Linked DNA regions of Homo sapiens. The protein of the gene in region 1 purifies or fractionates together with the protein of each later gene. This does not show direct contact. Each region holds a gene or a part of one and is shown on either strand. Other genes may lie near its edges.

Region 1 (4,149 bases):
TTAACAATGTTGTGCAACCATTATCATTCCCAAAATTTTGTCATCATCCCAAACAAAAACTCTGTACCCATTAAAGAATAACTCACCGTTTCCCTATTTTCCCCTCCCACTACCCCCTGGTAACCTCTATTCTACTTTCTGTCTCTATGGATTTGCCTATTTAGATATTTCATATAAATTGAATCATACAATATTTTGTGTCTGATTTCTTTCACTCAACATGTTTTAAAGTTCATCCATGTTGTAGCACATATCAGTACTTCATTCTTTTTATGGCTGAATAAAATTCCATTGTATGGATATACCTCTTTTGCTTATCCATTCATCTGTCAGTGGACACTTAGGTTGTTGCCCTCTTTTGGCTATTATGAAGAATGCTGCTATGAACACTGGTGTACAAGTATCTGTTCAAGTCCCTGCTTTTAATTCTTTGGGGTATATACCTAGGAGTGGCATTGCCCAGCACCTACTTTTCAACACAATTTTGTGGTCTACTGCTCGTAGTCAACACATACGTAGGAACCTGTCATAAAATGAGCAAATGTCTCAGGGCATTCCTTGAGGAGAATGCTCCCTCTCTAAGCCAGCTGCTGGTGCTAGTGATTACAACGAAGAGAAAGCTACAAAGTTTGGCAAAGTGATGGTGCTGCCTGGGAATGGACTTTTTATGGGGGAAATGACATGCTTTGGAGATTGCATCCATGAGTTGGAGACTGGCAAAAGTTTTAGTGTGTATCTCTCATGAATGGCCAAGGTCTAGCATACCTTTTTAAAGAGTAACATGTGACACCATTACTTGCCATTAACTACTTTGTATGGATTTGTTTATCAGACCTCTGGTCATGGTGACAGCCCACTGGGAATAGGGTCCTATGGGACTGGAATGTGGCAAAGCCAACTTTGGAGGAGAGAGGTAGAGAGATGGGGCTGGAGTCCATGGAAGGCCTAGCTTGGGCTGTTACAGCACGGGGCCTGGACAGCATGAGAGTTCAAAAGATCTGTTTGGAAAGTTCATGCTCTTAAAGAAAGGTGGGAAGCACAGAGCTTGAATTTCATCTACTCCTCAGTTTTTGCCAGGAGTGGACTATTATTTACTGAGTCCACACCTCAGCAAATAATGCTTTCCAGGGTGACCTTAGTTTTCTTCCCTGCCTGAAGAGAAGGTTAACACTCCTGCTTATATTTGCACTTGCAGATAATCCAACAAGCTCTCCATTCCAGGTAGAGGGTTGGCTCCTTTCCAGATCAGGTACTGAAGGCCAGGGAGTCTGGGTAAAATGGAGATGGATGTATCTGGCCAAGACTGCCAAGACCTCTAGGCATCCCGGGTGATGGAACCCTGCAGAGTTCTTGCCCCCACCTGGTGGGTGGGTTGGTTGGGAGGAATGAGTTTGGCCATGTCTGCACCTGGTGGTGGCTGTTGCGCTGTTTGCTCATCGTGATTCTGCTCCTACCTGAACTTTCTCTTCTTCTTATGTAAGCCATCCCTAGAGATAACTGTAAAGCCATAATCTGCCATGGCTGGCTGGGCTTATATAACAAATTGGTTGGTATCGTGCAATAGCCTCTTGAACCCTGGAGAAACCAATGTGCTAAGTTGAGACTAAAACATGGGTTCATTTGATGGGGTATTTTGTGTGCTCAGTGAACTCAGGGGAGAGGAGTCCATGACCACAGGGGTCAGAAAGATGAAATTTCCTTTTAAATAAAGAGAACAATAATGGCCCAGAACATACTGTGCTGTCCCAAAGTCTGCAATAATGGGACAAGGGTTAGGGCATTGCTGTAGCACCACAGCTTTGGCAGAAAAGGCCCTCCACAGAACCCCATGGGCTAGGAGGAGCCCCATGAAGGCCAGAAGGCTAGATCCCAGTTTCAGGGCAACCTAGGTTTGATGAAGAGTCAGGTCAGGGAAAATGTCTTTTGGAGGCCACTGTCTACCATGCTGAAATCCAGCTTAACTAGAGTTGGAGTGGGGCTAAGATGCGATCTGTGAGAGCAGAAAGCAAGCTTTTCTCGATTCTATTCCAGGCAGGAGGGAATTTCATCAGTAGGCAAGGCAAGTTCACTTGTACCTTCTAGCTGAAAATTCCTGCCCCAAAGTAGCTGTGGCCCTTCTGGAAACTGTATAAGAGGCATTAAGATCCCAGCCAGCACAGAAGACTGAATGGGAAGCTTCCCATTGTGCAGACACTAGCCCGAGGGAAAACAAGAGCTGGAAGCAGGCTGGATCACTGATGATCCAGGCTCACCATTGGCCTTCCTCTCCTGGGAGCCACTTTCCTCAAATAGGTCCAGCCAGAAATCGGGCCCCTGCCTATGGACAGAGCACACAGGGACCTTCCCCATCCTTCCTCGAAGGAAGACTTTACTCACAGAATAGGCTTGAGTATTCAACCCACTTCTTCTAATCTTCTCTTCAGGGGAGATGGAGAGCAGCTGTTCACAGCTTAGGGGTCTGGCCAGGATTCCCGCTCCGTGCTATCTAGGCTGGTGATTGGCTAGAGCTATCCCTAAGGAAGAAGGGGGTGAGAAGTGAGAGGAAAGGAAGCGACTCCAGCAGCTCCTTCCTGGCTTACCCCACTCCCAAGACACCCCTCCTTCAGCGCTGCCGTTTAGCCTCACTCCCAGACTAGGCTGGGCCTAGGCCAGCCTGAGGGCCCTGACTCATAACTAGCACATCTTATGTAACAGCCAGGTTACTGAGGCATCACACTTCTGCTTGCTCAGTGGTAGGCTTCCCTGGGGACAGGCATTTGGAAGCCTGCTGGGGGTCCAAGTCAAGCTCATCATACTTCCCAAGGAAAAGCCTACTCTCCCCAGTGTCAGGCAAGCAGTCTGCTCAGAGGCAAATGCCAGGCAGCAAAGCCTGACCCGGTCCCACACTCAGCCTCCACACTCAGCAGTAAATGTAAGCAGACAGGCAAGCTGGAGTGGACTTAATTTGGCTTGAGGCATTTTGGAGGTGGCAGGGAGGAACCTACTATCACCTGATAATGCACTGCTAAAGAAACTGCGTGGTGCATGGAGAGGCCCCAGAACAGGTCGCAGAAGTCCCTCTTCCTTTTGTATCTGCTTGTTGGTTCAGAAACTACTGGGTGGGTTGGGGTGGGGGGAGTTGTTGGGGGGGGGGCGGAAACTCCAGGCTGACTGACACCAGGTGAAAGGGTTTACCGGAAGGTGGAGGAGCTGTTTAAAGGAAGGCCTTTCAAGAGCCAATTCCCAGTCCACGCTCCATGAAGTCTCAAAGTCCCCAGGTTGACCTGAATTCACAGTGATTCTTAGCTCTCTGCCTGGCCTATTCAGAAAATTACATTACCGGCTTAGTGGAACTGAGCCCCCAGTGAAGTCAGTATTGCCAGATTCTATGACAGATTTCTCTAATAACAAATGTGACTATCTACAGCACAGAATACCCCCATCAATCTAATATTCCACTAGCTCAAGGTTTGTAACTAAACCAATAGCTCCTCTTCTTCTCTTCCTTTGTCTTTTCCCCAGCCTGTCTCACGTGTGTTGCCATCAAGTAAATGGCTCACAGGCTGTGAGTAGGTGGGGACACTGCTCTCCACTCCAAGAAATAGAGGAGAAACAGGGAAACAAAGTCAAAAAGGTGGTGTGGGAATTACCAGCAGGCATGATTTGTATCCAAAGCTGACTCATAAGTTCTTGGACAAGCTCAAGACTACCATCTCAGGGCTCAGAAGAGCTTGGCACCCTTAGTCCCCCAGATCACAGAATCCAGTGAAAATTAGGGGACCTGAGATGGAGATGCAGAATTTTCCTTTGTGGGACTCCTCCCAGGCTTCCAGCCCCTTTCTTCTCCCTATCCCCTCTGCCTTTTTGGTTCATAGGCTGTAGCAGTAAAAAAGAAAAAGAAACAAAGAAAACAAAACAAAGAAATAATAAATAATAAGAAAAAGAACTGCTCAGTTTTAAGGCAACATAATCTGCCTGCCCAGGTGCACAGAGAAATGAATGATGGCAGCACCTCATTCGGCCTTGTACCAAAGCGACCAAGCACTTCAATTAATCAATCCATCATTTATTGACCAAGGGCCTGCTATGTATTGAGTACCGACTGAGGATTTATTGAATGCCTATCCTGCTAATCACTGTAGAGGACACAGGAGACGTCAGAGTCTAGGA
Region 2 (4,149 bases), on another chromosome or scaffold:
ATACATATGACAGCTATAATATAAAAGATGAGGGTAGAGTGGGGTAGATGCACCTACATTGTTTGCAAATTTTGACGATGGTCTATGAAAATTTAAAGTCATTTATTCTCAGCTGGGTACAGTGGCTCATGCCTGTAATGCCAGCTCTTTGGGAGGCCGAGGTGGGCAGATCACTTGAGGTCAAGAGATCGAGGCCAGCCTGGCCAACATACTGAAACCCCGTCTCTACTAAAAATACAAAAATTAGCCAGGCGTGGTGGCACGTGCCTGTAATCCCACTACCTGGGAGGCTGAGACAGGAGAATTACTTGAACCCAGAAGGTGGAGGTCACAGAGAGCCAAGATTGTGCCACTGCACCCCAGCCTGGGCAACAGAGTGAGACTCTGTCTCAAAAAAATAAAAATAAAAATAAAGTCATTTATTGTAATCTTCAGAGCACCACTGAAAATGTGATGCAAAGAGGATAACTAGAAAGTCAACAGGTAAATTAATATTAAATTCTAAAACCTATTCAAATAATCCTAGAGAAGTCAGGAAAGGAAGAATAAGCAAACAAAGAAGAGAAGGGACATATAGAAAACAAATAGCAAAACAGTAAAGTTAAATCTAACTGTGTCATTACATTAAGTATAAAGGGGCTAAACATCACAAGTAAAAAAAACAGAGATCATTAGATAGGATTTTAAGAGGAAAATCTAACCACATGATGTCTATAAGATAAGCACCTTAACTATAAGACACAGGTTGAAAGAAAATGGAAAGAAAAATATGCCATGTGAAAAGTAGGCTTTAGAAGATTGGACTGGCTGTATCTATCAGAAGAAATAGACTTAAAACAAAGACTTTTACCAGAGATAAAGAAGGAAATTTCCTAATGATAAAATGATCAGTTCATTAGGAAATAATAATAATCATAAAGATGTGTGTGTGGTTGGGCACGGTGGCTCATGCCTGTAATCCCAGCACTTTGGGAGGCTGAGGTGGGTGGATCACCTGAGGTCAGGAGTTAGAGACCAGCCTGAACAACGTGGCAAAACCCCGTCTCTACTAAAAATACAAGAATTAGCTGGGAGTGATGGCATGTGCCTGTAATCCCAGTTACTCAGGAGGCTGAGGCAGGAGAATTGCTTGAACCCAGGAGGCAGAGGTTGCAGTGAGCCGAGCCGAGATCATGCCATTGCACTCCAGCCTGGGCAACAAGAGCAAAACTCCACCTCAGAAAAAAAAAAAAAAGTATATGTGCCTAATAACAGAGGTTCAAAATACATAAAGCAAAAATTGACTGAATTAAAAGAACCAAAAGACAATTCTACCACTAGAGGTGGAGATTTTAAAACACTCTTAGTAATGGACTGACCAACTAGGCAAAAAATAAATAAATAAATAAATAAATAAATAAATAAATAAATAAATAATTACTCTAGACATAGATCCTACTTTATGAGTTGGTTAAGTTGGTGACTGGGAAGGATCTTCATGAGATGAGCTCTTGTAGGAGGGACACTCCATTCTTTGTAACACTACTGATGAAGGAAAAGTAATAAAAACGTTTTAAAAATGAGTATGTCTATTGCACCACTGCACTCCAGCCTGGGCGACAGAGCAAGACTCCATCTCAGGAAAAAAAAAAAAAAAAAAGAGTAAGTCTGAAATATTTCTATTCCTATTTCTCTATGTGTTCTGCATTAGTTTTTCTTGTAACTTTTTTTTTTTTTTTTGAGATGGAATTTCACTCTTTTTGCCCAGGCTGGAATGCAATGGCACAATCTTGGCTTACTGCAACCTCTGCTTCCTGGGTTCAAGTGATTCTCCCGCCTCAGTCTCCCAAGTAGCTGGGATTACAGGCACGTGCCACACCTCCCGGCTAATTTGTGTATTTTTAGTAGAGAAGGGGTTTCACCATGTTGGCCAGGCTGGTCTCTAACTCCTGACCTCAGGTGATCCACCCACCTTGGCCCCCCAAAGTGCTGGGATTGCAGGCATGAGCCACCACACCCAGCCCGTAACATAATTTATTTAGGCTTCAAAAATTGTCCAAGCAACATTTTCTTTTTCTTTCTTTCTTTTCTTTCTTCCTTCCTTCCTTCCCTCCCTCCCTCCTTTTCTTTCTTTCTTTCTTTTTCTTTCTTTCTTTCTTTCTCTGTTTCTCTCTTTCTCTCTTTCAGTGAAAGCAAGTTTATTAAGAAAGTAAAGGAATAAAGAATAGCTGCTTCACAGATAGAGCAGTCCTGAGGGCTGCTGGTCAAGCACCATTTTCTAGACCTGTCCTGTACAGATTTCCCTCCCTTTCCATTTTCTTTACATAACATCAAGAATCATTTATGTTCCTTTGGTAATGTTTCATTCTACATTGCTTCTTCATAACACATGTGCTGTAGATCTTACTAGCAGTATTAGCCAGCAGATGGCTTGTTTATTGTGGTGGTATACTGCTGATGGACTGAAATGATGGCATAAATAGGCTAATTCACTTTTATGTTTTTTCTTCTTTCTTCAAAAGATATAATAAAACAAGACAGAAAACAATTTTTTGACAGATGAAATTGATAATGTTTAGACCGTAAGTCTGGTCTTTGAAAAAAAAAAAAGCCATCAGAAAGTTTCTCACTTTCCTTCTCAAGTCCTCCTGTTTCTGCTAATAGGCACAGCCTCTGACTCCCTTTTATGAAGAACAGATTATAGCACAGATTTAGCCCAAGCTGTTTCTGCTAGGAGAGCTGCTTCTTCCTAAGAAGCGTGCTATAGAACTGGGCAGTCCACTCTCCATTCTCCTAGCCTTGGTATTTTCTGGCTGCGAGCTTTGGATATGTCAGCTAACCTATTCAGCTTATTATTTCATTTCTAATAGAGGCATAACAAGGAAAGGGCTGTCTCTCCTATTTCAAGGGATTGCGGCAAACACTACATTAGATTTCTGTGAATACTCCTTGTAAAAGCGTGAGGCATAATACAAATATCAGATATCAGCGTGAGTTTTCTATTTCATTAGACCTATTTCATTAGAAAAGGTGAAAGCTCTATTATCACTCTCTTAATTGTTTTAGCTCCTTTTTGCTTCACCTTCCCTTTTATTTCTAGTGTCTACTTTGTGCAATTAGGCCTCACGGCTCATGTGTGTTTGTGAAAAAGAATTTTTAAATGTCTTCTATTTGCTATGAGAACATACCCTACTCTTTGTCTAAGCGTAATTTCTAATCATATAACCTGAAGCATATTCTCCGATCTCATAAAGTGGCATTCTTCTGATTCTGATTAGATGTACAGCCCTAATATCATAGTGCAAGTATACATGCCCTCCCATAAGTATTCTGAAGTATGATTCACCCTAGGTTTTCAAATCTCTTCCTTGCCCTAGAAAACAAACTTGGACTCATGTGTTTGCCCACTTTATTCAACTCCTCTGTCTTCTACTCCAGCAAATAGACTCATTCCTCATTCCTCCCAACACTTAAATATGCTTCACAATCCACAAAGCTGTACCTGATGATATATATATATATATATATATATATATATATATATATATATATATTTTTTTTTTTTTTTTTTTTTTTTAAATGACAGGCAGGTAATGTGCAGACATCATAACAAGGCTTGAAGGAGGCATATCTCACACAGGAACATGAAAACCCAATCATCACACTTATAAACGACAAAGGGATCTAGTATATACGTTTTAGATACTGAAAAGAAGACATAACAAAAGGACTTTTAGGGTAAAATTGATTGCAAGGCTAGGTATGGTGGCTCACACCTGTAATCCTAGCACTTTGGGAAGCCGAGCTCAGCAGATTGCCTGAGGTCAGGAGTTCGAGACCAGCCTGGCTAACATGGTGAAACCCTGTCTCCATTAAAAATACAAAAATTATCCAGGCATGGTGGCTCATGCCTGTAGTCCCAGCTACTTGGGGGGCTGAAGCAGGAGAATCGCTTGAACCCTGGAGGTGGAGGTTGCAGTGAGCCGAGATCGTACCACCGCACTCCAGCCTGGGCGACAGAGCAAGACTCCGTCTCCAGAAAAAAAAAAAAAACAAAAAAAAAATTAATTGCAGTGTATTCGAGTGTTGGGTTAGGTAAGAATAAATAAACAAGGCCGGGCGCGGTGGCTCACGCCTGTAATCCCAGCACTTTGGGAGGCCGAGGCGGGC

Evidence for each region.
Region 2: the proteins of TSC22D3 (region 1) and SGK1 purify together in Homo sapiens (affinity purification with western blotting; 2 studies listed by BioGRID). This does not show direct contact.

Annotation. Positions count from the first base shown.
Region 1 is NC_000023.11:107,765,437-107,769,585, reverse strand, and holds part of TSC22D3 (TSC22 domain family protein 3), read left to right. Parts: intron 1-4,149. UniProt on the Homo sapiens protein: Protects T-cells from IL2 deprivation-induced apoptosis through the inhibition of FOXO3A transcriptional activity that leads to the down-regulation of the pro-apoptotic factor BCL2L11.
Region 2 is NC_000006.12:134,202,852-134,207,000, forward strand, and holds part of SGK1 (serine/threonine-protein kinase Sgk1), read right to left. Parts: intron 3,664-4,149; exon of another isoform or gene 3,560-3,663; intron 1-3,559. UniProt on the Homo sapiens protein: Serine/threonine-protein kinase which is involved in the regulation of a wide variety of ion channels, membrane transporters, cellular enzymes, transcription factors, neuronal excitability, cell growth, proliferation, survival, migration and apoptosis.